Linked DNA regions of Homo sapiens: region 1 is linked to region 2. A link means that fine-mapping ties the variant in region 2 to the expression of a gene that starts in the linked region. Tissue or cell type: whole blood. Region 2 holds a variant in brackets; the other region holds the start of a gene. All regions are shown on one strand. Distances are between the middles of the regions. Region 1 holds the start of SDCCAG8 (SHH signaling and ciliogenesis regulator SDCCAG8). Region 2 holds the start of LINC01347 (long intergenic non-protein coding RNA 1347).

The links. PIP is the estimated chance that this variant, and not a neighbour inherited with it, causes the effect.
Region 1: SDCCAG8 starts here. The variant in region 2 is the best candidate, but not a certain one, in a credible set for the expression of SDCCAG8 in whole blood (TOPMed, PIP 0.55).

What each region holds. Positions count from the first base shown.
Region 1 is chr1:243,247,920-243,265,099 of GRCh38, forward strand. It overlaps SDCCAG8 (SHH signaling and ciliogenesis regulator SDCCAG8), which reads left to right and starts at 8,122. Exons shown (of 18, transcript NM_006642.5): 1 at 8,122-8,321. The coding sequence starts at 8,255. It overlaps CEP170 (centrosomal protein 170), which reads right to left and starts at 7,362. Exons shown (of 20, transcript NM_014812.3): 1 at 7,121-7,362.
Region 2 is chr1:243,099,912-243,116,124 of GRCh38, forward strand. LINC01347 (long intergenic non-protein coding RNA 1347) reads right to left here and starts at 1,833. Exons shown (of 18, transcript NR_029401.1): 1 at 1,475-1,833. RefSeq lists an enhancer at 13,882-14,633. The variant A/G (reference allele first, on the strand shown) is at 8,367.

The DNA.
Region 1 (17,180 bases), 150 kb after region 2:
CACAATAAACCTCTGAGGTAGCTGGACTATCACTAGCTTCCTGATAAATTCTTCCTATGAAACAGCATCGCTTCTCCTGTTCAAACATCAGAGGCAGCAGCAGCTGCCATACTCATCCACGTAGGAAACAGCATTGGCCTCTTTATGAGTAAAACTTTGTTCAGGGCTTTAGATTTAGTAGTTGCCAGGGGAGAATAACTGTGAACATTCATGTTGATAAACCAGATTTAAAAAAGGAAATTGCTTTCTCAGAGACCATTCAGAAAGAAAGAGGATACTGCCTGATTTCTTATGAAGTATTTAGGTGATTAAAGGTGATACAGGGGACTGATCACTCCTTATCTCTAAAAATACTTCCTTTACTTGGCTTGTGGGACAACACACTCTTCAGTTTCCTCACACCCCACTGTCCACTTTTCAATCCTCCTCGATGGCGCCTTCTCTTTTGCTCAGCTTTCCATGTGGAAAGTACCAATTCTCAATTCTTGGATCTCTTCTCAGTCTAACTCCCTAGCCAAGAGATCCCTTTAAGTCTACTGGTGATGCTTAACATTTAACTATCCTCAGTCCAAACCTCTCCTCTGAATGCTTGACTTACATATCTAACTGCCTACCTGATGTGTCCACTTGGGCGTTTAACAGACACTTCAAACTTAACATATCCAAAACATTTGACTCTCTAAAGCCAGAAACTAGTAACTTTCACTATTGCCACTACTGTCGCTCTAGTCTAAGCCATTAATGTCTCTTAAACCAGATCATTCCAATCATTTCCTAGCTTATCTCATGGTTCCCAGTGTTTTAAAGAATTCCCAGAGCCATTCTTTAAAAATATAACCCAATTTTTTGGCTTTGCTCAAAATCCTCCAATGAATGCTCATAGCACTTAAAATCAATGAATAAAATCTCTATGCAACCTCATTTCCTCCTATAAGCACCTTTTCCTCACTCACCTTCAGCCACAGTGTTCTCCAAATTCACTTATCCCATTCCTGCCTCAGAACCACCGCACCTGAGTAGAATACTCTCCACTCAGATACCTACAAGATGCTTCCTTACCTAATGCAAGTTCTCTGCTAAATGTCACCTCAGAAAGAGGGATTCCCTAACCACTCTAAGATAGTTCTCAAGGTGTAGCATAGTGGATAAAGAGGCTATTTTTTTGTGTCATAGAGGGGACACAAAATATGTATTTATATTTGCTTGAGGTGAAGAAAAATTCATGGCCAGGCGTGGTGGTTCATGCCTGTAATACTAGAACTTTGGGAGGCTGAGGAAAGAGGATCACTTAAGCTCAGGAATTCAAGACCAGCCTTGGCAACATAGTGAGACCTCATCTCTACAAAAAATTAGCTGGGCATGGTGGCGCACACTTGTAGTCCCAGCTACTCAACAGGCTGAGGTGGGAGTATTGCTTAAGCCCAGCGGGTCAAGGCTGCAATGAGCTGGGATCCTGCCCCTGTACCCCATCCTGGGCGACAGAACAAGACTCTGTCTCAAAATAAATAAATAAATAAATAAATAAATAAATAAATAAAGTTCATTGAAGAATACATAAGAAATAATAAAAATAGCTACTTACTGGATTGGCAAAAGTGGTAACTCAGCAGATAAGATGTAGGGTGAAAAGGTTTTTCATATTATTTCTTTTCAAAATATTATTTGAAAACTACCTGAATGAACACTTGAAAACAAATGTAAAACAGCAGTCCTCTACCACTGTCTCTTTACCTTGATTAATTTTTCTTCATAGCATCTATCCTTACTTGACTTTACATCGTAAAAGAATTATCCATATCCTCCAGTATATTGTAAACTTCATCTAATTCCTTTACTGCTGGAGGATATAATGGTTTTCTCTTTAATTTAAAAAACAAAACAAGGCCAGGCGCCATGGCTCACACCTGTAATCCCAGCACTTTCAGAGGCCTAGGCAGTGGACCATGAGGTCAGGAGATCAAGATCATCCTGGCCAACATGGTGAAACCCTGTCTTTACTAAAATACAAAAAATTAGCCGGGCGTGCCTGTAGTCCCGGCTACTCGGGAGGCCGAGGCAGGGGAATAGCTTGAATCCAGGAGGCAGACGTTGTAGTAAGCCGAGACTGAGCCACTGCACTCCAGCCTGGCGAGAGAGCAAGACTCCGTCTCAAAAAAACAAAAACAAAAACAAACAAAAAGGCCCCAAAAACAAACAAACAAAAAAAACCCATCCGAATGGTTTTCATTATTTTTGTGTCACCTTTCCTCCCAGCATCTTTTATTTATGTAACATTCATTCTATTTATAAATGTGCATGGCTTTGTCCTTGGCTATATTAAGTATATGGCCAGGATGGAGACATAAGAGTTTGGCTTGTTGAATTTATAAATGTCAAAAAGCCAGGAAGGAAAGCTAATCCCTTGGATGACAGAATCATGATTCAAGAAGATCTCAAGTTTTAACTATAGCTACGTTCACGGAGATGAAATTTAATAGGAGGCAATGGTAAAATACTGGTTTAAAAACATCACCTGTGTGTTTATACACAATGGGAGAAATCTAGCTAAGTGTAAAAATGTTGGTTTATGTTGACTACATCAGTGGTTTCCAGACCAATTTTTCAGAAAACAAATTAAGAATCAACATAAGGCTGCCAACTTTTTATTGGTTAATCAGGAACACTAAAATAAAACAAAACCCCATGACCAACATCAAAAGAAACTTAACCTATCATTACTTAATAGGTGTTACTAACACTATCATTTAATAAAGGCCATTTATGAACATTAGAAAAGGAGAACAAAATCTCAAAAAATAGTACCTTGAATTACATAAATATAACTTGAAAAGCCATGTAACATTTCTCTCTCTCTCTCTGCTTTTTGCTTTGAATTAGCAGAGATGACTGTTGTTAAAGAGTTGATACAATTTTAGACTTTAAACACAAGTGTATGGCTTGAAATAAGGAAAGGGACAATTTCACTGCACTTTGCATTCAGACCATAACTGCAGAATTAAATATGGAAACAAGATCAGAACACAAAGAATAGCACTGACAAAACTGATTGAATCCAGCTGAGAGATGTGAGGGATGGCAAAGGAAACCATATGAAGTTGGAGGTGTCCTAACATTTAGACAAGAGAAAATCTAGCTAATATATTGAGAAAAACCTTACTTCATCTTACTCCTAAAGACTGAATTGCAACCAGTGGGAAGAAGTTATATAGTAAAAGCAGCTACTAGCTCAATTTAAGTGAGATCTTCCTATTACACTTTTTGGAAGCTAAACAGGCTTTCCTATGCCCAGGGAAGGGTTTGTGGAGAAGTTGGACCCAATAACATCTCAGAGATATTAGTAGTGGGTGATACATTGTATGAGCTGACTTCTAAAGTTCCCTTGAATTCTAAAATTTTATGAACCAGAGTAAGGAAATAAGTGGTACCCTTTAACTTACTAAAAAAGATGAGTAGAAAGAATTTTGGCTTTAGCCAAAAAGACAAAGGTTCAATTATAGGCCCTATCACTTAGGAATGTGTAACGCAGAGGCAAAGTTATTCACTAACTCTATGCTTCAAATTTTTTCAATGTGTAAAAATAATACCTTAATTTAGAAGTTTGTTGCAGAAATTAAATACACACACACCACACACACATAAACTTCCTGGCACCTAGGAAATGTTCAAAATTTGGTAGGTATTATTCAACGATTCAATAAATATTGTGTTTCAAAGGGTAATATTTTCTATATCATTTATTACTTATGGATATACTTAAAAAATGACTTGTTCTCTGCTATGTGTCATTTGTTTTTCAGACCTCAACAATGCATGCTTGGGATTCTTTTCCACTTCTATACTTTCTGCAATTCCTGTTTGTATGTAAGTAGATTTTATGAGGTTTTCTTTAACTTTGCTTTTGCTGTTTTGTTTTTCCACCTTTATTTGATATAAAAGTGGGCTTTAACAGCAACACACATTGGCTATGTCACTGGCTTTGGCTAAAACATTTCTGCTAAACTGGACAATATATCCAGTTTAATCAACCACACTACCAGACAGATGTTTTTTATCTCTCACAATGGCTAACTCACTGCTGAACACTCCTTTATGAAATTTTTGAGTAAGTAAATAAAAACCTAGGGTATCTGATTAGAAATTTTGGTTATTAATGAAATAAAGATATTTCTTCCCATCAAAAGTATCCCATTTCTTAATGAAACAGATCAACACTGAATGCTCCAGTCAATACTATCTACTCACCAAGCATTCTTCAAATGGCACGTAACTGCTCTTTTGTTATACTTCCAGAATAATTTGCAACTGTACAGATACTTTAGTTAGCAATTAAATATCAGGTTGTCTGTCAGATACTTAGTTGAAGAGTACACTGCTTAACATCCCAGTGTTTGGGACAGATAAGAAAGAAAAGTCTTTACCTATTAATTAGTATAGAAAAAATATTTTTCAGGAATACAATTTTGTGGAATAAAAAACATTTTGACAAAAAAGCTTAAGCATATACAATATTTAGTACTAGATGAGCATTATCTAATTGCAATCAGATACAATAATAAAACTAGTTCTTTTTTTCAGTAGATAAAAAGGAACAAGAAACTGATACTTGGAACAAATCAAATAAATCACGAAGCACAGAATTTTAAAAAGTACCATAACAGCATTAATATGCAGAATGTATGCTAAGGTTTACAGTATAAATTTCACTATTCTAATGTTAAAATAGGGAACAGGCAGATTATTTCCATACAAAATAATCTCAGAACACAATGAAATTTACCAGTAAAATACATTTAAAGCATGATTGAATATAATCCCACATACTGAAATTTAGTTACAGATTTTTAAAGTTGAAATTTAAGATAAATAATAAATCCTTTAAAGAAGTCTATTAAAATGCAACGTAAAATTAAACGATTAAAATTATAAGGGAAGAAAAAAGCACTTTATGGCAAAATCAACCCAATAAAAAACATAAAGTTAATATATCTTAAAATGTAAATTCTAGTTTAAGTTAAAAGTAATCACTAATAACTCATTAATGATTACAACTCATTAACTGTGGCAAAATAAACATCATAGGTTCTTGTTATGCGGAAATTTTATTTTTAACACAGCCTATAGAGTTGATCATCATACTATTATAAAATACTATTGATTTTCAAGAAATAATATTAAAACCTACCGTTAAGTAGCTACCATTAGGTAGTAGGGAAAACACTGCAACACTTCGTTTTTATGAAAAGCACATGTTAGGACATCTTTCCTCATGTAGTAAGTTACTTTATGAAAGTAAAGGTCCATTTTAGGAGGATTACTACTTTTACATCACAAAGGCAAGAACTAGATTAATCACGGTGAGAATCAAGTTCAGTGATAGTCACAGCCTACTCAGGGAGCACATAGAGAAGCTTTCCATACATTTTCACAAGGTAAAAGGGCTAGGGGGACACAGGAAAGATCACTCTGCAGAATGGACCTTGAGTTTCGTTTGGCTCTGCCTTCGATTAACTGTCTGGCTTGGGCAGACAAGTCAGTTAACTTTCTGAGTTTTAGTGTCTTCCTCTGTCAAGTGCACTTGGGCTCTTCCGTGTTATCTACAAAGTTAGGAAGAGCTAAAGGCAGCCCTAGTTTTACTTTTTAAAAAATAATAACAGAAAAATACATAAGTTGCTATTCATCAGTGTACTGTTTCCAGAGCTGAATTCCTAAGTCTCTGAAGCATACCCAGTTAGGGTTATACCAGTGAAGATCCAGATACTATAGTCATAATGTCACTCTCTCCTCTCCCATTATTCCTCCACCTGCTCCTCCCCATCCTGCTTTATTCTCTCTTCTGGTGTGTTTTAAGAAGCAACGCCAGCAAACGGCTGCATACATTGTAAGCTTAAGGATTAAATCATTTTAAAATATGCATTTTCAATCAAATGTATCATCTGCTTCGCCAAATTCCTCCCAAATGGCTGAATTTTCATTAAGAGAATAAAAATGAGTTAACAACTTCGGTAACAGAAATGTACTGGGCCAGTTGTTTTGTTTGTTTTACTTGCTTAAAAAATAAACGGAAAGATGTATCCATTCCCTCAGGAACATAAATGCATTACCTGCCCAATGAAAAAACAATTCTGCTTGTTCATTTCCCTGACACAACAGCTTCGTTGTCAGGCCCTCTCTAGCCCAGGCTCCAACGTCACCTAGTAATTTTATATTGATCACCTTGGCAGTGCTTGGACTCCAGCAGGCATAGTCCCTGTCTTCCTTACATTCCTCAAAATAAATAAATAAATAAATAAATAAATAAATAAAACTCTACGAAACACCACCGAACAGAGATTCTGTGACTTAGTATACAAATCCCACGTCTTCCCGCCCTGTGTTAGGCAGCTGCAAATGTTATTTTTTCATCGCTTGCATAAAATGGAAGCGAAACGTACCAAAACCCTACATCTGAATCCTAGGACAATGAAGCCGACAGGAAGCCACTCTCTCCTCCCCCGGGTTTACTACAGAGCCAGAGCCTCCACGGGGTGCAGTCGCCAGGCAGGGTGCATGACACCGCGTCTTCCACGCCCTCCCAACGCGTCCAAAAGGTTGCTCGCCTGACCTCGCCAACCGCCTCACACCCCAAAACCAATCACACAAAAGGGATTGGCCCGGGGAGCTGCTCCAATGGGGGAAAAATCCCTTCCCCAGCGGCAGCGCAGCCATTCCCTCCAATGCTCCGCCCGCACCCCTCGCAAACTGCTACGGCGGAGGGGGGAGGGCTGCACAAAGCCAGTCGAAAGCTGAAAATGATTCAATGCACTTAGGGGATGCGGAGGCGGCAGCAAGGGGCTCGGGAAAGCCGGGGGGCCGCAGGACTGGAGCTCCGGGGGGCGGCGGGTGGGGGATGGGAAGGGTGGTCCCGTCAAGCCCCGGGTCCCAGGCGGGCAGAGGGTGGGGGTGGCGGCGCCGCGCGGAGCACCCGGGAAGCGCCCCCTTCGCGGTCCAGCCCCGCACCCCCGCCCCGCGGCGGGCGGCGCCCGAGTCCTCGCCGCAAACCCGAGGAGCAGGATGTGGAAAGCAGCCGCGGCGGTGGCTGCGGCTGCGGCGCCTACACCGAGCAGCCGATCGCATCACTTACCCCTTACCGTGGAGAGAGGGACCGGACGGGGGAGGCGGGGCGCGTCGCGTCCCGTGAGTCTCTCGCACGCCGTCCTCCCCCCACCTCGTCGTCGTCGTCGTCGCCGCTGTTGTCGTCGCTGCCGCTGCGGTCGAGCTCCGGGGCCCTCAGCTCCGCTGGGCAATAACGTTATTCCACACACGCCCCACACATAGCGGTAACGGCAAAGACCGACTGCCTAGTGCGCAGGCGCCTCGGGAAAGGGCGAGGAGCCGGACCCTATCCCCTCCTGCCCAGTTCCAACGATCCCTTACTGCGCAGGCGCCACACACAGACAATGAAAAGGGGTTGTGCGAGGGTCTCACCCACACGCTTTTCCAGCTTGCCCACTGCGCAGGCGTGCCCCGAAAGACCAGCTTGAACAATGAAGAGGACCTCGGCGTTAGGTGGGACCGCAACCAACAAGGACTACAGTTCCCAGCGGGCAGAGCGCCAACTCCAAGTGAAGGTCCGGTTGCTGGGCATGCTAGGAGTTGTAGTGTCGGCCGCCTTTACAATCTAGGCTGTTTGGAAGATTTAGAGCTTCTATTTCTTGAAGATTTATTCGACCGTTTTAAAAAATCTCGCAACTGAAGCAGGGTTCAGAGTTTACTATCTGCGTCCTTGAGTAGCCTGGGGATCAACTGCTGCATATTAGCAAATTTCGAAGCGTCAAGGCCTTCAGTGAGCCCTTTCTGTCATTTGGGTGGTCCAGGCAGCTGAAGAGTGGGATGGAGGCGGGACTAAACCAGGCTGGGCTGGAGGAAAAGGGCGGGGCCTGCAAGCCTGTCTCTTGGCAGCAGGCTCTGGCAGCCAAACCGTCCAAGCTAGCGCCTGGAGCGCAGTGGTTTCTGGGAATTGTAGTGTAACTGGAAGGCCCTGAGGATTGTCGAGCTTGCAGGTTCTGAACGTGAGGACTACAACTCCCGACGTGCAAAGCGAGGGCCAGTGGGTGGGAAGAGCCCCCAAGAGCTCTGTGCGGGATTCTAGGCTCCCCTGTGACAGCCGCGGCAGGAAGCAGGCGGGCGCTCCCCGGCCACAGGCCTGTTGTTCTCGGAAGGGAGAAAGCTGGACATTTCCCCACGTAACTCCCAGCTCTGGGCCTAGAGTGCGTGCATGGCGAAGTCCCCGGAGAACTCTACCCTGGAGGAGATTCTGGGGCAGTATCAACGGAGTCTCCGGGGTGAGTTGCTCCAAACCTCTGTCCCTAGCCCCGAGGTGCCCAGGGCCTAGTGGGCGGGAGCAGACCAGGTGCGTTTCCTAACACCTGGGTTCTGCCCCGTCCACGCTACAGAGGAGCAAGATGGATGTTGCTGTGGTCTTGAGGAGGATGAAATAGTTTGATTTAGTTTTTACAGTTAAGCAACGATGTTTCCTCAGATTCCCGTAGTTACCTCAATCAACTCCTTGATCTTAACTTGGCATCTTTCTCAACCGGCGACAGCAGAAACTCTTGGATAGCTCTATGCCATTTTTGTTCAGTTCCCATACGTTGCTATTTAATCCAATAAAAGTCTGATTCACAGTTTTTACACATTTAAATTATGGCACAGTGGATTGAATGTGATTTATGGGATCAGTGGGGGGAAACACTAATAATTATTTTAATCACAAGAGCCCCCTTTTAATTGATTTAGGCTATTTACATACAGTAAATCATCTGCAGCTTACACCAATCGTGTGAATATTTTACACATGGGGAAAGCGAAGCTCAGAGAGGTTGAATTACAGGCCAGAGCCCACACAGCTGGTTAGTTGCAGAGCCAGGTATTATCAGGCTTGCCTTCAAAGCCTATGTTTGTATTTACTAATCAAGCCATAATTACTATTATCAAAACCTTATTAATTTAGATTTTCTTACCACATTACCATATGAGCAAGTATCTGTACAAATAATGTCTGTATTTATTTTCCTTTAAGCTCTGTTGGACTTAATGTCTGTACTTTTAGATGGCGCTGTCAACTTGGACAGCATATATAACATCTAGAAATTTCGATTCTGTTATAATGGAAGTTATGGAATTGTCCATAGGGTTATTGTGGGGAGCAAATGAAATAATCCCCATAAAGCAGTGATTTTAAGACTTCTTAAAATGTTTACCTATAGTAAGAAATAAATTTTATATGGGACATATGTGTACATATAAACTATAAGTTTCACTGAAGAATTTTTATTCTACTAAATGTAATAAACTCTGCTTTCTATTCTGTTGCATTTTCATAAGCCTCTAGGTCATGACTGTTTGCGACATTGAGAATACTAAGTTATGAAGCATGTGTTGTTCTGCATAATATGCCTACTATGTGTCAGTGCCTCCTACTATGTGTTAAGCATACTAGGTGCTAGGCATGCAGTAAGGAACAAGACAAAGTTCCTATCCCCATGGAGCTTCTGGATTAGTTGGGGAGAAAGACAAAAAAAAAAAATAATTATAGATTACTATGATAGAAAGTAAGGGTAAAGATCAGTGCTTACTAGACAAGCACTCATTAAATGTTAATTGTTATTTATACTTGTTACTTAAAGCAAAGTGAAGGTTTTTCAATATTAGAAAGTTTATCTTCTCATGACTCTAGATTTTATAAGGGTTACTATGTATTGTTACATCTGTCAATTGTGTTAACAAACTGTCGACATTCTCAGTATTCAAACTGCAGGAGTAAAAAAATCGGTTTTAATGAACACCTTCCTCAACCTACTGATGTTTCAAGAGCTGTTAGATACAAAATAAGCACTTCTAACTTTTCATTTGGAAGCAAGAAAAATACTGTGCACAATGATATGAGTAATTGTAATTTTTAAGATTGGCAAAAATTTTTTGTTTTCATTGAAAGTTTTTCCTGATGCTTCTCTTCCTTTGACCTTATTTTAAGTCTTTATATAATTGTCGGAGGCTGTTTAACATTAGGCATTTTGACGCAGTAAAGGGGTTCATTTTAAATTAATGTTATAGTAATATGTTTAATACTAGTGGTACTGCTTTCAATAATTACAGAATGAAGGGTTTTCATTTAAGGATAATACATTTTAAAATTAGTTTGAAATAAAATTTAAATTTAGTGTGATAACAATATAAGGTAGTGGAAACATTTCACCAAGAGCAAATACGAAGGATAGAAAAAGTTAAACAACTTAAAAAAAAACGTATTCATAATTTTAACAGTGAATCAGGAAATGTAACCTGAAATGTTTATGGGTTTTTCAGGACATATCATTTATTTAGTAGCACTTTTATTTTTGTATGTTAGCTTATATAACAGCTTCTGGAAGGAAACAAAACAGAATTAACTCTGAACTTAAGTACAGTCAGAAGTTCTTCACAAATATAAATTGCTATTTTTGAGTAGTATAATTTATTTATTTAGAGATGGAGTCTCACTCTGTCATCCAGGCTGAAATGCAGTGGTGCCATCTCGGCTCACTGCAGCCTCTGCCTCCTGGATTCAAGCAACTCTCCAGCCTCAGCCTCCCAAGTAGCTGGGATTACAGGCACGCGCCACCATGCCCGGCTAATTTTTGTATTTTTAGTAGAGACTGGGTTTCGCCATGTTGGTCAGGCTGCTCTAGAACTCCTGACCTTAAGTGATCCGCCCACTTCAGCCTCCCAAAGTCTGGGGTTATAGGCGTGAGCCACCGCGCCCGGCTGATAATTCCCTTTAAAGTAAAGTATTCTGTTCCTTAATAAACAATGCTGGAGTTATGTGGAAATTCCTTATTTTGAGTGTGCCTAATAATTTAAGAATTGTATTACTATGTAGTAAGATAAAATGCAGTTTAAAGTTCTATGTCTTATTTTGTTTTGGTTTTGTTGGTTTGTTTGGTTTTGTCTACCCACCATTACTTCCCCAAATGCCTTGCGTAGTTTATGATTAATGGAAGCCTAATAAACAGTCTTGGTCTTTCCTCACCGGTTTTTCCTCTAGCTTGTAAATAACTGCACATGTAGTCACTACTAATATCCCTTCATTGATATTCAGCCAGGAAGTGGCCGCATAAAAATGCAAAATGCTTTCCCTATTTTCCGTGATCGTACTTCCATTTTAAAAAGATCTTTTCCTGGGGCCGGGCGTGGTGGCTCACGCCTGTAATCCCAGCACTTTGGGAGGCTGGGGCGGGCGGATCACGAGGTCAGGAGATGGGAGACCAGCCTGGCTAACACGGTGAAACCCCGTCTGTACTAAAAAAAAAAATACAAAAAACTAGCCGGGCGTGGTGGCGGGCGCCTGTAGTCCCAGCTACTCAGGAGGCTGAGGCAGGAGAATGGCATGAACCCAGGAGGTGGAGCTTGCAGTGAGCCGAGATCGCGCCACTGCACTCCAGCCTGGGCGACAGAGCGAGACTCTGTCTCAAAAAACAACAAAAACAAAAACAAAAACAAATTTCCTTATTTCTTTAATGTTGGTACTATTATGGTATATCAAAATTTGAAGTTCTAATGTGAAAACTGAGTCAGCATTTACTTTCTTGTTTTTAAAATGAGGTTGGGCGCGGTGGCTCACGCCTGTAATCCCAGCACTTTGGGAGGCCGAGGCGGGCAGATCACCTGACGTCTGGAGTTCGAGAACAGCCTGAGCAATATGGAGAAACCCTGTCTCTACTAAAAATACAAAATGAGCCAGGCGTGGTGGCAGGCGCGTGTAACCCCAGCTACTCGGGAGGCTGAGGCAGGAGAATTGCTTGAGCCTGGGAGGCGCAGGTTGCGGTGGGCGGAGGTTGCAGTGTGCTGAGATCGCGCCACTGCACTCCAGCCTGGGTAACAAGAGTGAAATCCTATCTCCAAAACAAACAAACAAAAAAAGATATTTTCCTCATTTCTTTAATTTTGGTACTATTATGGTATATCAATAATTTGAAGTTGTAATGTGAAAACTGAGTCAGCGTTTACTTTCTTGCTTTTAAAATGAGATCCTTGCCTCATTTTGACCTTGATGATCTTGGAGCAGCTCCACATTCACCTTTCATCCATTCCCTTACACTTTTCAGTGGATTTGCTGTTTGACTTCTCTAAAGATATCTCTTGCTTTGGGTCGCCTATGCCCTTTTACAAGAAATTGGAGACATTTAATGATTCTTCTTCAAAACGAGAGTTCTGGCAGAAAAACCGGAAGGCTTTGTTGCCCCCACAGATCTGTTGTATTATTCCTACATAGTAAATGGTCTGAAAGTTTCCAGTGTGGTTAAAAGTGTATGTGTCCTGGGTATCCTGGGAACCACAGAATTTAATCTAGAACTGGAAGTGATTTGGGAGGTCTCTTGGCAGTAAGGTTAGGTGTTCATTTACTCTATGGGTAGTTATAATTCAACAACCACAGAATGGCCGAGAACTACATTTGTAAGTGGGCAAGATAGCACATGCGCCTTCTCTAAATTCAATACATCGTTGTATAAAGCCAAGAGGTATGAAATGAACTATTTCATAGCCAAGAAAGGGTGAAAAAAGCCACAATTATAGGCAATCCAGGCTCTATTTTAAGTACTGCACACTTGAGTGTAAGGGGATATCAGAAAGGAGAAAAATTGCTAGAAATGCAGTATTTTAGCCTTAATAACAGAATCATGTCTCATCTCTTGCTGCAGCGTTGGGAATAGATAACAATTTTATCAACAACACCTGTATACATGACTCACCTATTCACCTCATTCCTAGCCACCTTTGGTTGGGTGAGTATAAGGAAAAATGAAACAAACTTCTTGTATGACAGGAACTCATGATTTTCTATATACATTTTGCATTCTGGTTTTACCTTTTTCTGTCAACATTTTGGTGTTTCAGCCTTTAGATGAATTTATGGGAAGAGTGTGGTGGGGTCAGAGGAGAGAATGTGGAGCTGGGAGCCAGGTCACTGCACTTACTTTTGCTTTGCTGACAACCATCTGGGTAACCTTAGGCAAGTGAAACACACTGTTCTTGGATTCCCGTTTCCTCAACTGTAAAACGAAAAGTTTGGACTGGATGTGAGAATTATTGCCTTTAGGTGCCAAGCAAATGATCAAAAGGTATGATGGAGTCAGTGGAAGACATTAAGGGAAATGATGAGGCTTATGGCCAAATTGGGCAGTTTCTGCTTTTTCTAAAAACATTTCAATTTCTTCCTTGCTCCCTCCCTCTTTGCTTCCTTTTTTTTCTTCTCTCTTTTTCCCTCTTTTCCTCCCTCTTTTCTTCCAAGAAGGAAGCCAAGCAAAACACACCCAGAGCCTGATTCCCCTTTAGACACCACTCTCTGACCCTTTGATCATTAATGTTCCTTCCATCAGCACTTGTTTGGACCAGATGAATGATTAAGGGCTATGTTTTTGTCTTATGGAAATGAGAGTAAGGAGTTGAACCAGGTACACAGAAAGTGAGAGGATGAATATGAGAAGAAAATATATAATCTCAGGGATGGGCCTTGTCTTTACGAATTGATGTAGTTCAAGAAAACCAAAGATAAGGTTGACTTTCTATGTTTTGCTTGTATATGATTAGCACATCTATCCAAATCCTGCAAAGTGGCTCACAATTGTAGAAGGGCTGTGTTAGTCTTACTAGCCAACAATTTGGTCAGTGTATTAGCCAGCAGTGATATCATCTGGCTGTCTTAAGAAAACATATGTGTAACTCAAATAAGTATTCCTGTTTTCTTATAAAACTTGTATTTCTTTTTTGCTTTTCTCAAATATTTTCTGGATTTTTAAATATTGTTTGCCATATGCACTATATAGGAATATACACACATAAACATGAGGGGTTTTTTGCTGATAAAATTCAAATTATACATATTCATCTTTTGTTTTATATATTCATGTGGCTTTTCTTTTTCTTTTTTTTTTTTTTTTAATCTCAGCTCACTGCAACTTCCACCTCCCAGGTTTAAGCGATTCTCCTGCCTCAGCCTCCCGAGTAGCTGGGTTACAGGCACGTGCCAACACACCTGGCTAATTTTGTATTTTTAGTAGAGACGGGGTTTCTCCATATTGGTCAGGCTGGTCTCAAACTCCCAACCTCAGGTGATCTGCCTGCCTTGGCCTCCCAAAGTGCTGGGATTACAGGCATGAGCCACGGTGCCCGACTTTTTTTTTTTCTTTTGAGACAGGGTCTTATTCTTTTGCCCAGGCTGGAGTGCAGTGATGTGATCTTGGCTCACTGCAACTTCTGCCTCCTGAGTTCAAGCGATTCTCCTGCCTCAGCCTCCCGAGTAGCTGTGATTACAGGTGCCACCACCACGCCCGGCTAATTTTTTTATTTTTAGTAGAGGCAGGGTTTCACCATGTTGCCCAGGCTGGTCTCGAACTCCTGGCCTCAAGTGATCCACCTGCCTTGGCCTCCCAAAGTGCTGGGATTACAGGCATGAGCCATTGTGCCTGGCCTCATGTGGCTCTTCTTAGTGCCTTTAACTTTTATGATCTTTTATTTTACTAGAACTTAAAAGTACAATCTCAATTTTTCTTTCCTACTACTGATGAGATAAAATTGGCAAAAGACAGGATTTAGCAACCAGAAAAGAAATGAGTGTTCTACAAGTAAATAGTCATCCCTGGAATAATCTAAATCAAAGGTATGTTTCAGTGTTAGGAGATTGTAGGGGTACTTTTTCATGTTCTTTGTCAGAAATAGGTATAGAGTAAGTTTTTTTCAAACTATTGAGATACTGAGAGTAATAATATTCTCTCCTGGGATGTTTAAAGACTTATGGTCTGATCACATTGCCAGTTTGTGCTAAGATTTTCACCATTTTACTTGATGATAACTCTTCTCAGAGTCCAAAAGTAGACAAGGTAGCTAGAAATGCCCTTGTGCACTGGCTGAAGCAATCCTGATGATGGCGGAACTTCATCAAAGCCCACTGGATACTTAAAGGGATGGCCTTAGGGCAAATATTGCTTTTAGGCCCTGAAACAAAATAAAGCTAAATATGAATCTGAGCTCTTGCTTCTGATAGATATAACACCTATTCCTGACACCTGGATCAGATGTGTCCCATCATGGCACTGTCGGTCTCAGGCTGTGTCCTCCCCACCAGCACTCCTGTGGCAGAATAGCTCACTGTCACGCTCATTTTCCATCAAGAGGCGGCAACACTTACAATGTAATGTGGTCAGAGTGATAGCAAGTCTCCCCTCAACACTGAAAACTCTTGTTTTATTGATCTCGTTTTATTGACTTGAAAACTGTCTTGTTTTATTGATTTTTTTTTATTGTCACAATTGGGGGTGGAGATGAGTGCTGCTGGCCTCTGGTAGGCAGAAGCCAGGGATGCTATTAAACTGGCACAACACAGCCCCTTCCAAAAGAGAATTATCAGGTCCAAACTGTCAATAGTGCTGAGGTTGAGAAATCACGATCTAGAAGTACAGGCTTTGCTTGTAGCCCTTGATCTGCAAGAATCCTACTTTACAGTAATTACAAGTAAGGATATACAGATTGTATTTGCTGGTGATTTTACCTATGTTCTTTGCCAGCCTGGCTAGGTTTACTTCTTTTATCAGTGGAAAGTGACAGGTGCATCAGTCCTCTCCACTGATGCCAAAGAAATACCAGGTGTATCCCTTAGAATGCATATAGCCAATCTCCTGGATTTGCCAACACCCACATATCTTTAATGGTCTTCCAGACATTGCTTTCTTAAGATGTTTACATTCTTTATCAGATTATCTTTTACTCCTGGCGCCAACCACTTTAGCATGTTTTCAGTTATTAGAGTCTTAGGATAGTATTTTCTTTGAGATTCAAACAAAAAAGTATTCTACATAGTACTTGTAATCTCTTTCACAATTGTAATTGCCTTTCACAAAGCCGACATTGTCTGATTTTTTGATTCTGCTGTTTATATCTTGGTAGTGTTACCTGTTGGTCCCCTAGTAAACAGTGACAGCAATCTTCTGAACCAGGCTGAGGCCCAGTCAAGTGTAGATAGACATGTATTTCTTATCTCACTGTGGTTTTATTTTTCTGCATGTCTGCCCTAATCAAAGCTTGTGCTGGGAGCTGCAGTGCATCTCATATCTCGGCCTCGGGAGGAATGGTTCATTGCATATTCTCTCAGAGACAGCTGGGCGCTTCGCAGGGAGTGGTCCCCCTCCCTGTCACCAGGGCAATTCTCTTTCACATCTCCCAGGACAGATGGAGAATGAAGAAATTAATAATTCATAGTGTGTATTTAAGTGGTGATTCTTCCTAGACTGAGACATACTTGCATTTTGTTCAAAAACATCTTGATGAAGACAGGCCCAGTGGTGACCTAAGAGTTAGAACATAGGAAGTAGGGAAACTCTTACTAAGAAAATGGACAATACAGGCCAGGCAGGGTGGCTCACGCCTGTAATCCCAGCACTTTGGGAGGCTGAGGCGGAAGGATCACCTGAGGTCGAGGGTTTGAGACCAGCCTGACCAACATGGAGAAACCCTGTCTCTACCAAAAATACAAAATTACCCAGGTGTGGTGGTGCATGCCTGTAATCCCAGCTACTCAGGAGGCTGAGGCAGGAGAATTGCTTGAACCTGGGAGGCGGAGGTTGCAGTGAGCCGAGATTGCACCATTGCACTCCAGCCTGGGCAACCAGAGCGAAAACTCCATCTCAAAAAAAAAAGAAGAAAGAAAATGGACAAGACAGACTGAAATTAGCTAGCAGCCATTAGCTCAGGTACCTTTTAAGTGCTCATTGTACTGATTGATGTTTGGATAGTGCATTAGCAGAAATATTATCTACTTGCACTTACGTTCATGTGATCTGTAGGACTCAGGGGTCCTGTTTGTGTCTGTAGTCATAGTTAAGTTTATAGTCAGTTCCTGGTTGGTGCTGGGGAAAAGAAATCAGGATGCATTCATTGTGAAATACCCTTACTGTCCTCTCAGGAGAGAAGAGGAAATGAGTGTGTTCTCTCTCTTGGTTAGAAACAGATAAAGCTGTGTCCCATTAGCAGTTGGATAGGAAACGGTAACTGGAACCTTCTGTCTAATCTGGTTTCCTTAAATGTAAGGAGCAGATAACTGCATCTGGGGAGTAGTGCTCTTAATAAGGATTATGGGGGCTTCAGTTGCAATGGCTCCAGTTGAAGAGCCA
Region 2 (16,213 bases):
CACAGCTAAAGAAACGGGCTCAGAGAATGTTATTTGATTGGACCGTGTTGCATCTCTGGACAGTGCAGCTGAGATCAGACTTTGTGTGTAACTCCACTAGCCTACCAGGGTGCCTCTCATAAAGGTAAGAAATGTAAATTTGGGCTAATATACAAAGTTGCCAGGGCAGCACTGGGTCAATTCTACATACAGTACTTCTATGTTCATCAAGGGAAACCTTAAGGGAAAGTGAAAATGCTTCTAGAAGGCGACTGGACACCAGCGCCTTTGCTTGTTGCCTTTGGGCTCTTCTTCTAAGGCCAACAGTGACCTGAGATTATTGACTGGCTTTTCCAATCAAGTGGACAAAATGGTACCAAGGTCGCCAACATCAAACAAATTCACTTGAGGGCCTTATCTATGTCCTTTGAAAGACAAAACTGCTTTTGTAAAGGACACTGTATTTCAGAAAAACATAATCATATTAACAAATAATAACACTGTAAAATGCTGATGTATTGAATGCTACTTTAGAAAAACATGCTCAAATCTAGGGAAAAAATTTGATACAAAACTCCGTATCAATTATCTAGCTAGCTAGCTAGCTAGCTAGCTAGAGACATGCTTTCATTCTATTGCTCAGGATGGGAAGCAGTGGGATTATCATAGCTCACTGCAGCCTTGAGCTCCTGGCCTCAAGTGATCCTCCTGCCTCAGCCTCCTAACTAGCTAGGGCCACAGGTGGACACAGTTATGCCTGGGTTTTTGTTTGTTTGTTTTGTAGAGACAGGGTGTCACTACATTGCCCAGGCTGGTGTCAAACTTTGGAGTCTCGCTGTGTCGCCCAGGCTGGGGTGCAGTGGTGCGATCTCGGCCCAATGCAACCTCCGCCTCCCGGGTTCAAGTAATTCTCCTTTATCAGCCTCCTAAGTAGCTGGGACTACAGGCATGCGCCACCACGGCCGGCTAATTTTTGTATTTTTTGTAGAGACTGGGTTTCACCATGGCCAGGCTGGTCTCCAACTCCTGACCTCAGGTGATCCACCCGCCTCGGCCTCCCAAAGTGTTGGGATTACAGGTGTCAGCCACTGAGCCTGGCGGAGCACTTTCTTATGTTATTAAGTAGCCTAACCCAGGTGGGGCGCTGTCCCTCACACCTGTAATCCCGACAACTCTGATGGCCAAGGTGAGAAGATCGCCTCAACTCAGGAGTTCGAAACTGGCCCGGGCAACATAGCGAGCCCCCACCCCACCCCATCTCTAGAAAAAAAATACAAAAATTAGGCCAGGTGCACACCGCGCCCGGCTAATTTTTGTATCTTCTGTAGAGACGGGGTTTCGTCATGTTGCCCAGGCTGGTCTCGAACTCCTGAGCCCAAGCCATCCATCCTCCCGCCTCGGCCTCCCAAAGTGCTGGGATTACAGTAGGGCCCAGCCAGCCTCATGTTTTATTGCACACCTGGATAGTTTTTTAATTTTTTTACACAGGGTTTACCTCAATCTCGCAGGCTGGAATGCTGTGGTGGGATCATAGCTCACTGGAGCCTTGAATCTTTGGGTTCAAGTAGCTGGGGGGCTGAGGTAGGACTACAGAGATGGGGTTGCGCCATGTTGCTAGGCTGCTCTTGGCCTGAAGGGTCCTCCCGCCTCGGCCGCGCCATAGTTTTCTATTTTTGACCAACATAAACACTGTGCTGGGTCTGAATTTTTCAGCTACCCTTCTTCAGCCGGCAACACACAGGACCTGGCGGGGAGGTCGCTCTCACCAGTCCCCACTCTGACGAGAAGACCGCCCAGCTCCAGGCACCGTAGCGCCCCAGTGACGTAGGCGAACACCCGCGCCTCTGACGTCGCCAAAGGCCCACCGCTATGGTGTCGGCGAAGGCGCGCCCTTGTGACGTCACGGAAGGCGCGCCCTTGTGACGTCACGGAAGGCGCGCCCTTGTGACGTCACGGAAGGCGCCCCTTGTGACGTCACGGAAGGCGCGCCCTTGTGACGTCACGGAAGCGCAAGAACCGCTTGAACCCGGGAGGCAGAGGTTGCAGTGAGCTGTGATCGCATCACTGCACTCCAGCCTGGGCCACACAGCAAGACTCTGTGTAAAAAAAATTATTTTAGGCCATCGAACTGTATACCTGAAATTAGCAAATTTTATTATATGTAAATTGTATCTCAATAAAGCTATTTTAAAATTATAAAACTTGGCTGGGCACGGTGGCTCACACCTGTAATCCCAGCACTTTGGGAGGAGAGGCAGGTCGATCACCTGAGGTCAGGAGTTTGAGACCAGCCTGGCCAACATGGTGAAACCCCTTCTCTACTAAAAAATACAAAAATTAGCTAGGCATGGTGGCGCTAGCCTGTAATCCCAGCTACTTGGGAGGCTGAGGCAGGAGAATGGCTTGAACCTGGGAGGCGGAGGTTGCAGAGAGCCGAGATGGCGCCACTGCACTCCAGCCTGGGCAACAGAGCGACACTCTGCCTCAAAAAAAAAAAAAAATTATAAAACTTAAAAAATAATGTTAATGATAACAGAAGTTTGAGAATCAGAGATAAATTGTGTAATGATTTTTAAAAAGGGGGCCCAATTTTTTTACGGTTCAGTTTCTAGAACAGGAGTTATTCACCTGTAAGTCATTTGACGAATAGAGAGATAATTTTTTAGCACTCTTTCCAATTACTAGCATGTGTTTTCTTTGTCCCAAATCATGTTTAACACATCATTTATACTAAAAATACTAATTAAAACAATTATGGCATACTTCTAATAATGTTAAAAGTGAGTAATAATACTTAACCTAAAAGGGTACATTTATAATACTACAGTTTCAAGTTTCAGAAAGCAGAGAGGGAAGGATATTTCAAGACTGGAATATTCCTGCCATTCCTTAAATCACATTCCTCAGCATCTATTCATTTAACAAATATTTATTAAAGACCTGCTACACTCCAAACTCTTTCTATATGCTTCTGATCCATCAATGAGCAGAAAACACAGATATGCATCAATTAGGTTAGTTTGCAGAATCTCAGTGGCTTCTAGCACAATAGTTCATTTCTGACCCATGAGACCTGACAATTACTGGTTAACTACAGCTCTGTGACAGATTGTCATCTTTCTAGGACCCAGCCTGATGGAGTAGCCATTATCTGCAACTCTGAATAAACACATTGTAGTTCAGTCACATTTTGGAATACTATTCAGCAATGAAAAGGAACAAGGTGTCATAAACTCAAAAATGGGTGAACTCAAAAATACTACTGCTAAGTGAAAGAAGTCAGATGCAAAAGGCATTATGGCAGGATAAAGAACATGGTAAACCACACGCTGGCTCCTGTAACTTCTGCCTACAAGTAACAATGCTTTTGCTTCTATGTCAGCAATCAGACCCAGTCACGTAGCCATGTCCAAGGCCAATGGGGTGGGGAAAGGATAATCCTCCTGAGAGGGTCAGAGTATGTATTTGAATAATAGCGCAGTTTACCGGTTACCTGTATATAGTAACATAGAAGGAAATAAGGGTTGTAGAAAAAAAGAATCGGGCGTGCAGGGTTGGAATGCAATGATACGGAGCAGGATGTGGTGTTAGACAGTTCTCAGTTCTTCAAACCCCGAGAAGACTTGAAGGAGGTGAGGGAGTTGGCTAAGCAAAATATGAGGAAAGAGCATTTGAAGAAGATGGAACATCTAGAGCAAAGACCTTGGAGTAAGCGTGCCTGAGATGCCGGAGGAGTGGTAAGGAAGCCGGGGTGGCTGGAGTAGATTAGAAGCACGTAGTAGCTACTCCTCCTACTGGAGGTCATCACAGCAATGGGGTGGGACAAACAAAGAGGACTTTGTCATCGTTGTAAGAACTTTAGTTTTTACACTGAGTGAAATGAGCTAGTACAGGGTTCTGAGCAGAGACTTATTATCTAAGTCACCTGTTGAAAGATCACTCTGGGACGGGCGCAGTGGCTCACGCCTGTAAGCAATCCCAGCACTTCAGGAGGCCGAGGCAGGCAGATCACAAGGTCAAGAGATAGAGACCATCCTGGCCAACATGGTGAAAACCCATCTGTACTAAAACTACAGAAATTAGCTGAGTGCGGTGGCGTGCACCTGTAGTCCCAGCTACTCAGGAGACTGAGGCAGGAGAATCGCTTGAACCTGGGGGGTGGAGGTTGCAGTGAGCCAAGTTTGTGCCACTGCACTCCAGCCTGGCGACAGGTGAGACTCCATCTCAAAAACAAAACAAAACAAAACAAAACAAAAACACCTTGGGCTGTGTACGGTGGCTCACACCTGTAATCCCAACACTTTGGGAGGCCAAGGTGGGCAGATGCCTTGAGTCCAGGAGTTTGAGACCAGCCTAGCAACATGGCAAAACCCTACCTCTACAAAAACTACAAAATAAATAGCTGGGCATGCTGGTGCCTGCCTGTGGTTCCAGCTACTCCAGAGGCTGAGGTGGGAGGATCGTTTGAGACCGGGGAGGTGGAAGTTGCAGTGAGTAGAGATGGTGCCACTGCACTCCAGCCTGGGTGACAGAGGAAGACCCTGTCTAAAAAAAAAAGATAACTCTGGCTATTATATTGGGGACAAAGGGAAGAAGCAGGGAGACCAATTAGGAGGCCATTGCAAGAATCCATGCAAATGTCAACGGTGATTCAGACCAGGGTGACAGCTGTGAGGGTGGTGAGAAGTGGCCAAATTCTGGATATTTTTAAAGGTCAAGTTCATGGCATTTCATGACAAATCGAATGTGGGTGTGAGAGAAAAATAGAGACAACGATGACTGTAAGGATTTTGTTTGTTTGTTTATTTGCTTACTTGGGTAACTGAAAAAACAAAGTTGGCTTAAGGACCTGAAGACGTTTTTCAAAGAAGACACCAAAATGTCCCACAAGTACATGAAAAGATGCGGAACATCATGAACCATCAAGGAAATGCAAATCAATACCACAATGAGACAGCACCTTATACATGTCAGGATGGCTACTATAGAAGACAAGCCATGACAAGGGTTGGTAAGGATGTGGAGAAAAGTGAACACTTCTAAGCTGTTAGTGGAAACATAAACTAGTACCCCATTATGGAAAACAATATGGAGCTGCTTCCTCCAAAAATTACAAATAGAACTACCATGAGATCCACCAATCCCACTTCTGATATATATCCACAGGAAACAACATCAGTATCTCAAAGAAATATCTGCACTCCCGTGTCCATGGCAGCACTATTCACAATAGCCAAGGTGTAGAATCAACCTGTCTGTCAACAGATGAATACAGAAAATGGAGTATATATACACAACAGAATAATATTCAGCCTTAAAAGAAGAAAATCCTATCATTTGACACAACATAGGTGAGCCCAGAGCACAGTATGTTCAGTGAAATAAAGAGTCAGAGAAAGAAATACTGGGTGACCTCACTCATTTGGAATCTAAAAAAGTCAAACTTAGAAGCAGAGATGAGAGGTGTGGTTGCCAGGGGCTGGGGAGTGAGAGAAATGGAGAGAGGTTGGTCAAATGGTACAAACTTTCAGATAGAAGATAAGTTCTGGAAATCTACTGTACAGCATGGTGTCTATGGTTACTGATTATTATATACTTGAGATTTGCTAAGAGAGAGCAGATCTTAAATGTTCTCACCACACACAGACACACACAGAAGGTAATTGTACACCAAAAAGTGTCTGAGACAGGCCTTGATCAATTTAGAGGTTCATGTTGCCAAGGTTGAGGATGCACTGGGAAAAAGAAACACAAGTTCCCATACAATCTGTGGCCCATGTATTTTCCAAAGAGGGTTTTGAAGACTTCAATATTTAAAGGGGAAAGAGCAGCAGGAGGGGAAAAAGGAAAGAAAAGAGTGGGTAGGTAGCCAGATAAGTGGTTATATTCTTGTGAAACTTTCATTAGTGCTTACTGAATTCACATGTTACATGTGAGAGGAGGGTATAGAGGAACAGTCAATTACACATTCTTGTCACGCTCAGTAAATCTGCATTTTACATAAGATAAAAATAGAGTAGAGAAAGAAGTCAAATATGCATTTGTTTTGGGGTGGGCAGAGGGATGATTTCTAGTCTTGTCTTTGTTCCACACCCGTGAAGATAAGCTGTTAGTTATCTTACATTGTCAGGGTGATCTGGTTTGGCTGTGTCCCCATCCTAATCTCATCTTGAATTCCCACACGTTGTGGGAGGGACCTGGTGGAAGGTGATTGAATCATGGGGGCAAGACTTTCCCATGCTATTCTCTTGACAGTGAATAAGTCTCACGAGATCTGATGGTTTTAAAAAGAGGATTTCCCCTGCACAAATTTTCTCTTTGCCTGCTGCCATCCATGTAAGATGTGACTTGTTCCTCCTTGCCTTCGCCATGATTGTGAGGCTTCCCCAGCCACGTGGAACTGTAAGTCCAATTAAACCACTTTCTTTTGTAAATTGCCCAGTCTCGGGTGTGTCTTTATCAGCAGCATGAAAATGAACTAATACACAGGGTGAGGGAAGCCACCTGGAGAGGTATGTGGCCTTCTATCCTGCAGCTGTGAGTCTAGGAACAAAAGGAAAGCAGGTTTTGTTTTTTGTTGTCATTGTTGTTTTTTGCATGACTCAGCTCCCAAACTTAACTTTTCCCTTTGCCATAGGGGGTTTGAGGTCCCAGAGATTTTATTTTCCTTTCACATAACCACAGAAGGCAAGGGACATCTTAACTCACTTGATTATGGTAATCATTTCACAATATATAAACATATCAAATCATCATTGTACCCCTAAAATTTATATAATTGTATTTGTCAGTTATAGCTCAATAAAGCTGGGGGAGAATAGATTTATCAAAAACACATAAAAAAAAAAAAGAATGGCATTGCTGTAACTGAGGTGGGGAAGGCTGCAGGTAGAGTGGGCTTGGTGTAAGATGGGAGATCAGGGGTTGAATTTAGAACATGGTAAGCCTGAAACATCTGTGGGATACACAGGCAGATTCCCAGTGCACCCTGGATGAAGTCGGTCTCAACTCAGGTTCTCCCGTGTCACAGAATGTCCCCTGGAGCCACAGTCAACAGATCCAGGTGGTAACGCCGGCCTTACCACAAAGAAGCTCTGACTGTGGGGAGGTCACTAGTACACTCCATCTCTCCTCATCTGTGTGGTGGGTCAGTAAAACATGCCAACAGAGTTATTCTGAGCATTCTGTGACATAAGTATATGGCAGCGCTTTGCCAGTTAAAACATAGGATAGAAAATGGCCTGGCTGCTGCTGCTGCGGTTCACGGTAATGGTCTCATCCTCTTAGTCAGCCGGCTGCTTTGGGATGAAACACAACAAAAAGCCGATCAGATTTTCCTAGAGTCTCATGATCCCAGGTATCCAGAAACACAATTTGGAAACACTGAAGTTATTTTTCTTCCTTCGATGTGCTAGTTTTTCATTCTAGCCTACTCCACTCTGGGCAAATCCCTGTAGAATTCCTTGAGCAACATGAGCTCTTTCGCTGACTCAGATAAAATTGGACAGTATGTAATGTCCTGTGACCCTTGCCTGGAAGCGATCCCAGCTGGCTGCCAGGGTTGAGTCCGAGACCCTTACGACCAGGCTGACCCTGAGGCCTGGAGACTGCCGAGATCCCTGTTCAATGTCTGGAGAGCAGCGGGCGCAGCTGGTAGCCGGACCCTGCGTGGTTTGGAGCAGCGGGACACTCACTTTGAGACAGACAAACCTAGAAGTGAGCAACCACTTTCCACTTCACTATGTGGCGCATGATGGGTGTTCAGCAACAAATATCAGCCTCCTGTCTTCCCCTGGCACCGCCCCTGGCTTCGGTGAGTGGTCTGTTTCTGCCAACCGTCTCTGATTTTGGAGTCACGGGAATAGAGTACGGAGCCGCACGTGATTCCCTTCCAGATGTCAGTCCCAACACACCCCAAACGCCTTTTCATTTCTCTCACAAAACATTATGACTCTGTCATGCGTGGATTGCCTGGGTTCTTTTTTCAAGCAATTCAGCAGGATGACATAGAGCCTCTTGGTGAGGGGATGCCCATACATTTCCTATTGAAGCACAAAATAATTCTGCCCACTGTTTTATTTAAAAACCACCTAACTCAAGGCTCCAGGGATTTCCTTTCCTCCTGGTAGCCTGGGGTTTGGTGAACTCATCAGGCTCCCCGCACTTTGGGGTGTATTCTTCCTCGGTTTCCCCAGATGTGCAGCCAACAGTTGTAACTAGACAGGTGCAGACATGGCGTGTATATTGATATTGACATTTCTAGCAGGTTATCGCAGGTGTTTGTAAGACAGCCTTAGTTATAAGCTTCTCATTATGATCTTAGAGTCTAAGATAAAAAATATTTTCACGTATTTTTTTGCTTTCTCCAAATCCAGTGAGGGTGAATC[A/G]TGGCTACTTAGAGAATCCAAAGTTGAAAATCGAGATAAATAATGCAGTTTTGGCCAGGCATGGTGGCTCACGCCTGTAATCTCAGCGCTTTGGGAGGCCGAGGAGGGTGGATCACCTGAGGTCAGGAGTTTGAGGCTAGCATGGGCAACATGGTGAGACCCAGTTTCTACCAAAACTATGAACAATTAGCTGGGTGTGGTGGTGCACGCCTGTAATCTCAGCTACTTGGGAGGCTGAGGTGAGAGAATCACCTAAGTGAGCCCAGGGAAGTCAAGACTGCAGTGAGCCATGTTCACACCACGGCACTCCTGTCTGGGTGATGGGAGTGAGACCCTGTCTCAAAAAAAAAAAAAAATGCAGTTTAGGCAACATTTTGTCCTAATGAAGCCCTTGCATCATCATTATCCTTATAACACACACTTTTTTTTTTTTTTTTTGAGACGGAGTCTCACTCTGTCACCTAGGCTGGAGTGCAGTGGCGCAATCTCAGCTCACTGCAAGCTGCGCCTCCCGGGTTCACGCCATTCTCCTGCCTCAGCCTCCCGAGTAGCTGGGACTACAGGCGCCCGCCACCACACCCAGCTAATTTTTTGTATTTTTAGTAGAGACGGGGTTTCACCATTCACAAGATGGTCTCAATCTCCTGACCTCGTGATCCGCCCACATCGGCCTCCCAAAGTGCTGGGATTACAGGCGTGAGCCACCACGCCCGGCCAACACACACTTATAACATAAAATGTAAAAGGGGAAAAATGCCTTCTTTTTGCCTATTTTATTAAGGATGTAATAACCCTAATGGCCTTTCATGAAGAGCATTTTCTCCAAATGCATTGCACTGGGACACTCCCGAGGGACTCTGGAATGGATTTACTGCTTTCTCCGAAAACCAGGACATGGCCTATTTCATATAATATTGTTTGATTCAAACACATAATAATAAAAAATAATAATTTTCAGTGCTAAAAGTCAGCAACCCTGATGTGCGGTTTTGCCCCCTGAGTGACAGGAACAACACACGGATTTGTCTTCTCTTGTGTGACTGAAGAAGGGCAGAGCAGTAGGTTTTCGTTTCACACAACCCAGGAGATTGCCATTTTCTCAGGATCACCTGATGGCACAAAACTTAGGCCCTGGCTCATACCCTTCGTCCATCTCTTACTCTAGCTATTGCTAGAGCAAGCAGCTTCGAGCAGATGAAACCTCCCAGCACCTCCCCTCTGCTGCAGCATATCTCTTGCATTTTGACACCACAGCATGGAACACCTGCCACAATCGGCCCAGCACTCACACAAGCATCATCCCAACGCACAAGAGAATTCATGCCCCAAGAACACCCCTTGGAGAATCGGAGCTGGAAATTGATGAATAAAGGTTCCCTCCCTCTTTCAGGCGCACAGGCCGTCCATTCTGAAGTCACTCCGTGGCTCATTAGGAGCCCCTGCGCAGTCATGCCTCAGCTGCCTCCAGGAGTGAACAAGCTGAGATTGCACTCCCATTTGCCTTCCTTCCTTCCCTGTGTCACTCTTCCCAATCCCTCTATCTTGTTTTCTGGGAACACTTTCCCAAATTAGAAAATTCTGGAGGCCAATTAAGGCAATAAGCCAGGGAAATATGTTATGTAACCGTGTGATGAACTCACAAGAGATACTTGGGGACTTGGAGAAGTCCATTCCCTGTATCTAGGCGAGACCACAGCTAAGTCATTGACCAAAGGAACTTTGTATTAAAACAAACAAACAAACAAACAAAAAACTTAGAAAAATGGAATTCCAAAATCACCATTAGTAATTCTATTAGGTATTCAGATATTCATTGACTATAAATGTTCCTGAATGCAAAGCAGGAGATACAGAGGTCTGAATGTTGGATGTAAGAACTCGTGTATGTAATTGCATGAGCCAAAGAACAAGCTTAATGGATCTGGGTTCTGTGATTTTGCTCTTTTCGGAAGTGCTAGCTCAGTTTCAGAAAAGAAGTTCAGCGTCATTTTTTTCTTTTTACATTTATCTCCACCAAGTTTATGAGAAGTTGATCCAATGATTTACTCTCCTTGATCAGAAATACCAGAAATTCACTCTCAATTTCAGTCCTTTAACTGATTGGCATTCTTTAAACATAATGAACGGGAAAAGGAAATATATCTTAAAACAGTTTTTAAAAATGTGAAACAATTCAGGCATACAAAAGACACAGAAAATGATAAATTGTGTGGTATACCACCAAGATAAAACAGCTGTTAATATTTTATCTTATTTGCTTCAAACCCATCTTTTCAGTAAACATGCTATTTACTTAATAAACAAAATATTACAGTCCAGCTACTGCCTCACCCAGTGTGCATCATCCTCTCTTTCCCTCCATCCCTGGATATAACTCTATTCAAAATTCGTGTGTATGGGCTGGGCACAGTGGCTCACATCTGTAATCCCAGCACTTTAGGAGGTCAAGGCAGGTGGATCACTTGAGGTCAGGAGATCGAGACCAGCATGGCCAACATGGTGAAACTCCATCTCTACTAAAAATAAAAAATTAGCTGGGCATGGTGGCGAGTGCGTCTAATCCCAGCTACTCGAGATGCTAAGGCAGGAGAATCGTTTGAACATGGGAGGCAGAGGTTGCAGTGAGCCGAGATTGTGCCACTGCACTCCAGCCTGGGCAACAGGGCGAGACTCCATCTCAAAAAAAAAAAAAAATTAGTGTATATCATCCCCACATCTGCTTTCTTACTTCTTCTACATAAATATACATCCATAAACAATATAAATTAGTCCTCTGCATTCTAGTTTTTGTTGCTGTTAAGAAGTCTAGTTGAAGTTCTTGGTAAATAACCTTTCAATCACCTGACTTAATACTGTAAACAGAGAAGCAGATTTTTATTAATGTCTCATCAAAAGTAAGTTTTTCACCAGGAATATGCTTGTGAATGCAACATAAACATTTATAAATGTACCATTCATCAGTTTTCTTTCCTGATGGGAATAGTGAAAGAAAATAGAATTCATCAGAACTCCTGTGCCTCTTTGGCACAAACTTATAGCAATACGATAAATAGCAAGTACACCTATGTGTGAAGTCTTACCATAAAAAACAAACTTGATCAACTGCGCCGGAGGAAAGACTGAGTATCTTTCTCTTCTCTCCATGGAAAATGATATTACAAAATTGTCGTCACATGTTGGGGCCAGCAAAGAGAATATAGCCAGATGATACAGGAAATGACATTTCTCAAAAGAAGACATACAAATGGCCAATAGGTATATGAAAAAAAAAAAGTTCAACATCACTAATCAAAGAAATGCAAAGTAAAACCACAATAATATATCACCACATACCTGTTAGAATGGCTATTATCAAAAAGACGAAAGATAGCAAGTGTTGGAGAGGATGTGGAGATGATTTATATTTATAAGTTTGTATAGTTATTTATATTTCAATACTATTGCTGGAAATATAAATGACTACAGCCCTTATGCAAAACAGTATGGGGATACTTTGAAAAATTCAAAATAGAACTGCCATGCTACAGTAATCCCACTACTGGGTATCTATCCAAAGGAAGTGAAATCAGTACGTTGAAGAGACATCTGCACTCCCATGTTCATTGCAGCACTATTCACAATAGCCAAGATATGGAAGCATCCTAAGTGTCCAGCAGCAGATGAGTGGATAAAGACAATGTGGGATGTACGGCATATATACACAGTGGAATGCTATTCATCCTTAAAAAAAGGAAATTCCGTCATTTGTGACAACATGGATGAACCTGGAGGATATTATGCTAAGTCAGATAAGCCAAGCACAAAAAGACAAATACTGCATGATCTCATTTATGTGTTGTAACCAAACCCAGGTTCAGGTACTCACCAAAAGTCAAACATGAGATACAAGAGTTGGTGGGACAGGCCGGGTGTGGTGGCTCACGCCTGTAATCCCAGCACTTTGGGAGGCTGAGGCAGGTGGATCACTTGAGGTCAGGAGTTCGAGACCAGCCTGACCAACATGATGAAACCCCGTCTCTACTAAAAATACAAAATTAGTCAGGCGTGGTTGCACGTGCCTGTAATCCCAGATGCTTGGGGGGCTGAGGCAGAAGAATTGCTTGAACCTGGGAGGTGGAGGTTGCAGCAAGCCAAGAGATCAGATCTTGCCATTGCACTCCAGCCTGGGCAACAACAAGAGCTAAACTCCATCTCGAAAAAAAAAAGTGTTGGTGGGACAAAAGCCAGGTTTGTTCAGAGAGCCAGTAAACCAAGAAGATAATAGCATCCTAAAGTGCCACCTTAAGTCAGGATAAATTTCAGTCTCTTTTTATGTTAAGAGCAGAAGGAAGAGGAGGGGCATGGGATCAATAGGTGACTGTTGACCACAGACATCTGGGTGCCAGTAAGGGCCCTAGAAGGTGGGGAAAGTCTTAGCTTTTGGTCAGGTCACAATGCTCCTATAAATCTTTTTATTTTTTATTTTTTATTGTTAATAGGATCTTGGTCTGTCACTCAGGTTGGAATGCAGGGGCATGATCATGGCTCACTGCAGCCTCAAGTTCCTGGGCTCAAGCATCCTCCTGCCTCAGTCCCAGTGGCCGGGACTATAGGTACACGCCACCATGTGTGGCTAATTTTTCCATTTTTTTGTAAATATGGGGTCTCACTATGTTGCCCAGACTGGTCTTGAACTCCTGGACTCAAGTGATCCTCCCACCCAAAGTGCTGGGAGTATAGGTGTGAGCCACTGTGCTCCACTCCTATAAATCTTTAACAAAATGTAGTTTACATACTTCTCCTTTAATCTCAGATGGCTGTTTTTGTGTTTTATCTCGTGCTCTAAAATTATCCTAGCCTATATGCTGGAATGGGTGAAGGCCCCTTAAACAATAATGGAGTTAGTTATGTTCTTTTGCTGTTTCACTGTTATACAATGTGAAATCTAAAAATGTCGATTGCATGGAAACAGAGAGTAGAGTGGTGGTTACCAGAGGCTGGGTGGCTGGGGAGATGTTGGTTAACGGATGCAAAATTTCAGTGAAATAGAAGAAATAAGTTCAAGAGGTCTATTGTAAAACATGGTGACTCTGGTTAATAACAATATATTGAGCTGGGCGTGGTGGCTCACACCTGTAATCCCAGCACTTTGGGAGGCTGATGCGGGCAGATCACCTGAGGTCAGGAGCTCGAGACCAACCTGTCCAACATGGCAAAACTGGGTCTCTACTGAAAAAAAAAAATACGAAAATTATCCAGGCATGATGGCACGTGTCTGTAATCCCAGTTACTTGGGAGGCCGAGGCAAGAGAATCGCTTGAACTTGGGAAGTGGAGGTTGTATTGAGCAGAGATCGGGCCATTACACTCCAGACTGGGTGACAGAGTAAGACTGCGTCTCAAAAAAAAAAAAAAAAAAAAAAAAAAAAAAAAAAAAAAAGCCAACATAATTGTATTCTTAAAAATTGCTAAGAGTAGATTTTAAATGTTTGAACTACAAAAACATGAAAAGTATGTGAGGTAAGGCATATGTTAATTAGCTCAATTTAATAACCATTCTACAATATACACATATTTCAAAACAACATGTTGCCAACAATATACAGAATTTTGTCAATTGAAAATAAAATTTTTTAAATCCAGGAAAAATTGTAGAGATTTATTTTTCCTGGATTTGGTGATCTTGTGGCTTTTCTCCCCCCAGCTTTTTGAAACTTTTGGTTTGTTGTGACTTCTAGTCTCTAAATATTCACTTTACTGCCAAATTTTGTATTCATACTTTTGTATTCTTTGTCTTTTAAATGGCTTCCTAAATGGTATACATCATCAGGCCCTCAAAATGTGCTCCACCTGCTTTGAACCACAAAACCCCTGGGGACCCTAATCCAAACAGCTTCCACCCTCCCCAGCACTCTCTCGCTTGCTGTGCAGGCTTTCTGTGAATGCTCCAGGCACGCAAAGGAAGGAAGCCAAATGCTCCAAGCTGCTCGATGTCTGACTCCTGGAGCCGCAGCTCCCATGACTTTGTAAAGGGCATGCACCCTGCAGGGCATGTGCCCCAAGCACCAGGGGTTCCTCCTACTCTCTTTGCTTTCGAAAATGAGGCAGCAGGAAGTGATGGAGAGCGCTGTGGTCATCAAATGTGGATGAAGTTAAAATTTGTTAACCAAATGCAAACACTTCGGGGAGTGAAAGTGGGGCACTATTCATTTTTTTTTAAAGTCAGGCTCTCACTCTTGCCTCAGCTGGAATGTAATGATGTGATCAGGGCTCATTGCAGACTGGACCTCCCAGCTCAGGTGATTCTCCCACTTCAGCCTCCTAAGTAGCTGGGACTACAAGTGTGTAACAACATACCCAGCTAATTTTTTTGTATTTTTTGTAGACACGGGTTTTCACCATGTTGCCCAGGCTAGTCTCAAACTCCTAGACTCAAGTGATCTGGATGCCTAGACCCCCCGCAAAATGTTGGTGTTAGTGGTGTGAGCCACCTTGCCTGGCCTCCATTTGCAAGATTGTCCCAAAGGAAGTGACCTTGGCTGAAACCCTGGCTCTGCTTCCTCTGGCCTTGGGGCGAGAAGTAAATAACCAAATCTGCCTGGGCTTGTTTCCTCACCCCAGAAAATGGCAGTAAGAGCTGCCTCACAGACCAGGTACGGTGGTGCACGTCTGTAATCCCAGCAATTTGGGAGGCCAAGGCATGAGGATTGCTTGAGCTCCAGAGTTTGAGACCAGCCTGGGCAACATAGTGAGACCCCACCTCTACAAAAATCAAATTAGATGGGCATGGTGTTTTATGCCTGTAGTCCCAGCTGCTTGGTAGCTGAGGTGAGAGGATTATTTGAGCCCAGGAAGGTGGAGGCTACAGTGAGCTATGATCACCCCACTGCACTCCAGCCTGGGTGGCAGAGCCAGATCCTGCCTCTGAAGAAAAAGAAAAAAAGAAAAAAGAAAAAGAACTACATCAGTATTTTGTTAAAGGTTAAGGTTAGATTACCTAGATATAGGCTCTGTTTCTCTCCACATATATCTGTATATCTATCTATACACACACGTATATATTTAGAGTTATGTATATATATGCAGAGAGAGGTATAGCTATAGATAGATCTATATAAATATATATAAACAGCTATCTCTCTTTACATATGCATATATATATTTATGTATCAATCCACAATACAGAAACTTGGATATGCACAAAATATCACATTTTCTCTAAACCAGCTGAATTTTTATTTCAAACTCCCCTTCACAGCAGACTGGGAAGATGCTTGAATTCAATCTTTTCGAGGTATCCCACTGCCCCCTCCGAGATATGCTACAAACTCCCACACGGTGTCAAGCTCTGCACAGGAGTTACCTTGGAGAGCCTGTTGTCCCGGGAGCCTGACCCGTGAGTCCTAGGGGTCCCTGCTGCTTCCATGTGGACATCAGGCCAAGGGGCCTCTTTCCCAGGCTGCCCGCAGCCCCAGCTGCCCAGGCACACTCTGCTGCAGCTTTTTCTCGGGACGTTGTCTCCCCAGTGGCTCTGCGGTGACCTCTCTGGGGACCTAGGATCCTCATTTTTTAGTGTGGAAGTAATCCTTTCTTCACATCCAGCTAAGACATTCTATCAAAGCATGAGAATCTGCTTCCTTTTCATTTCTCTTAAAAAAATCATATACATTCTAGGCTGGGCGCGGTGGCTCATGCCTGTAATCCCAGCACTTTGGGAGGCTAAGGCAGGCAGATCACGAGGTCAGGAGATCGAGACCATGCTGGCCAACATGGTGAAACTCCGTGTCTACTAAAATACAAAAAATTAGCCAGGTGTGGTGGTGCACGCCTGTAGTCCCAGCTACTTGGGAGACTGAGGCAAGGGAATCG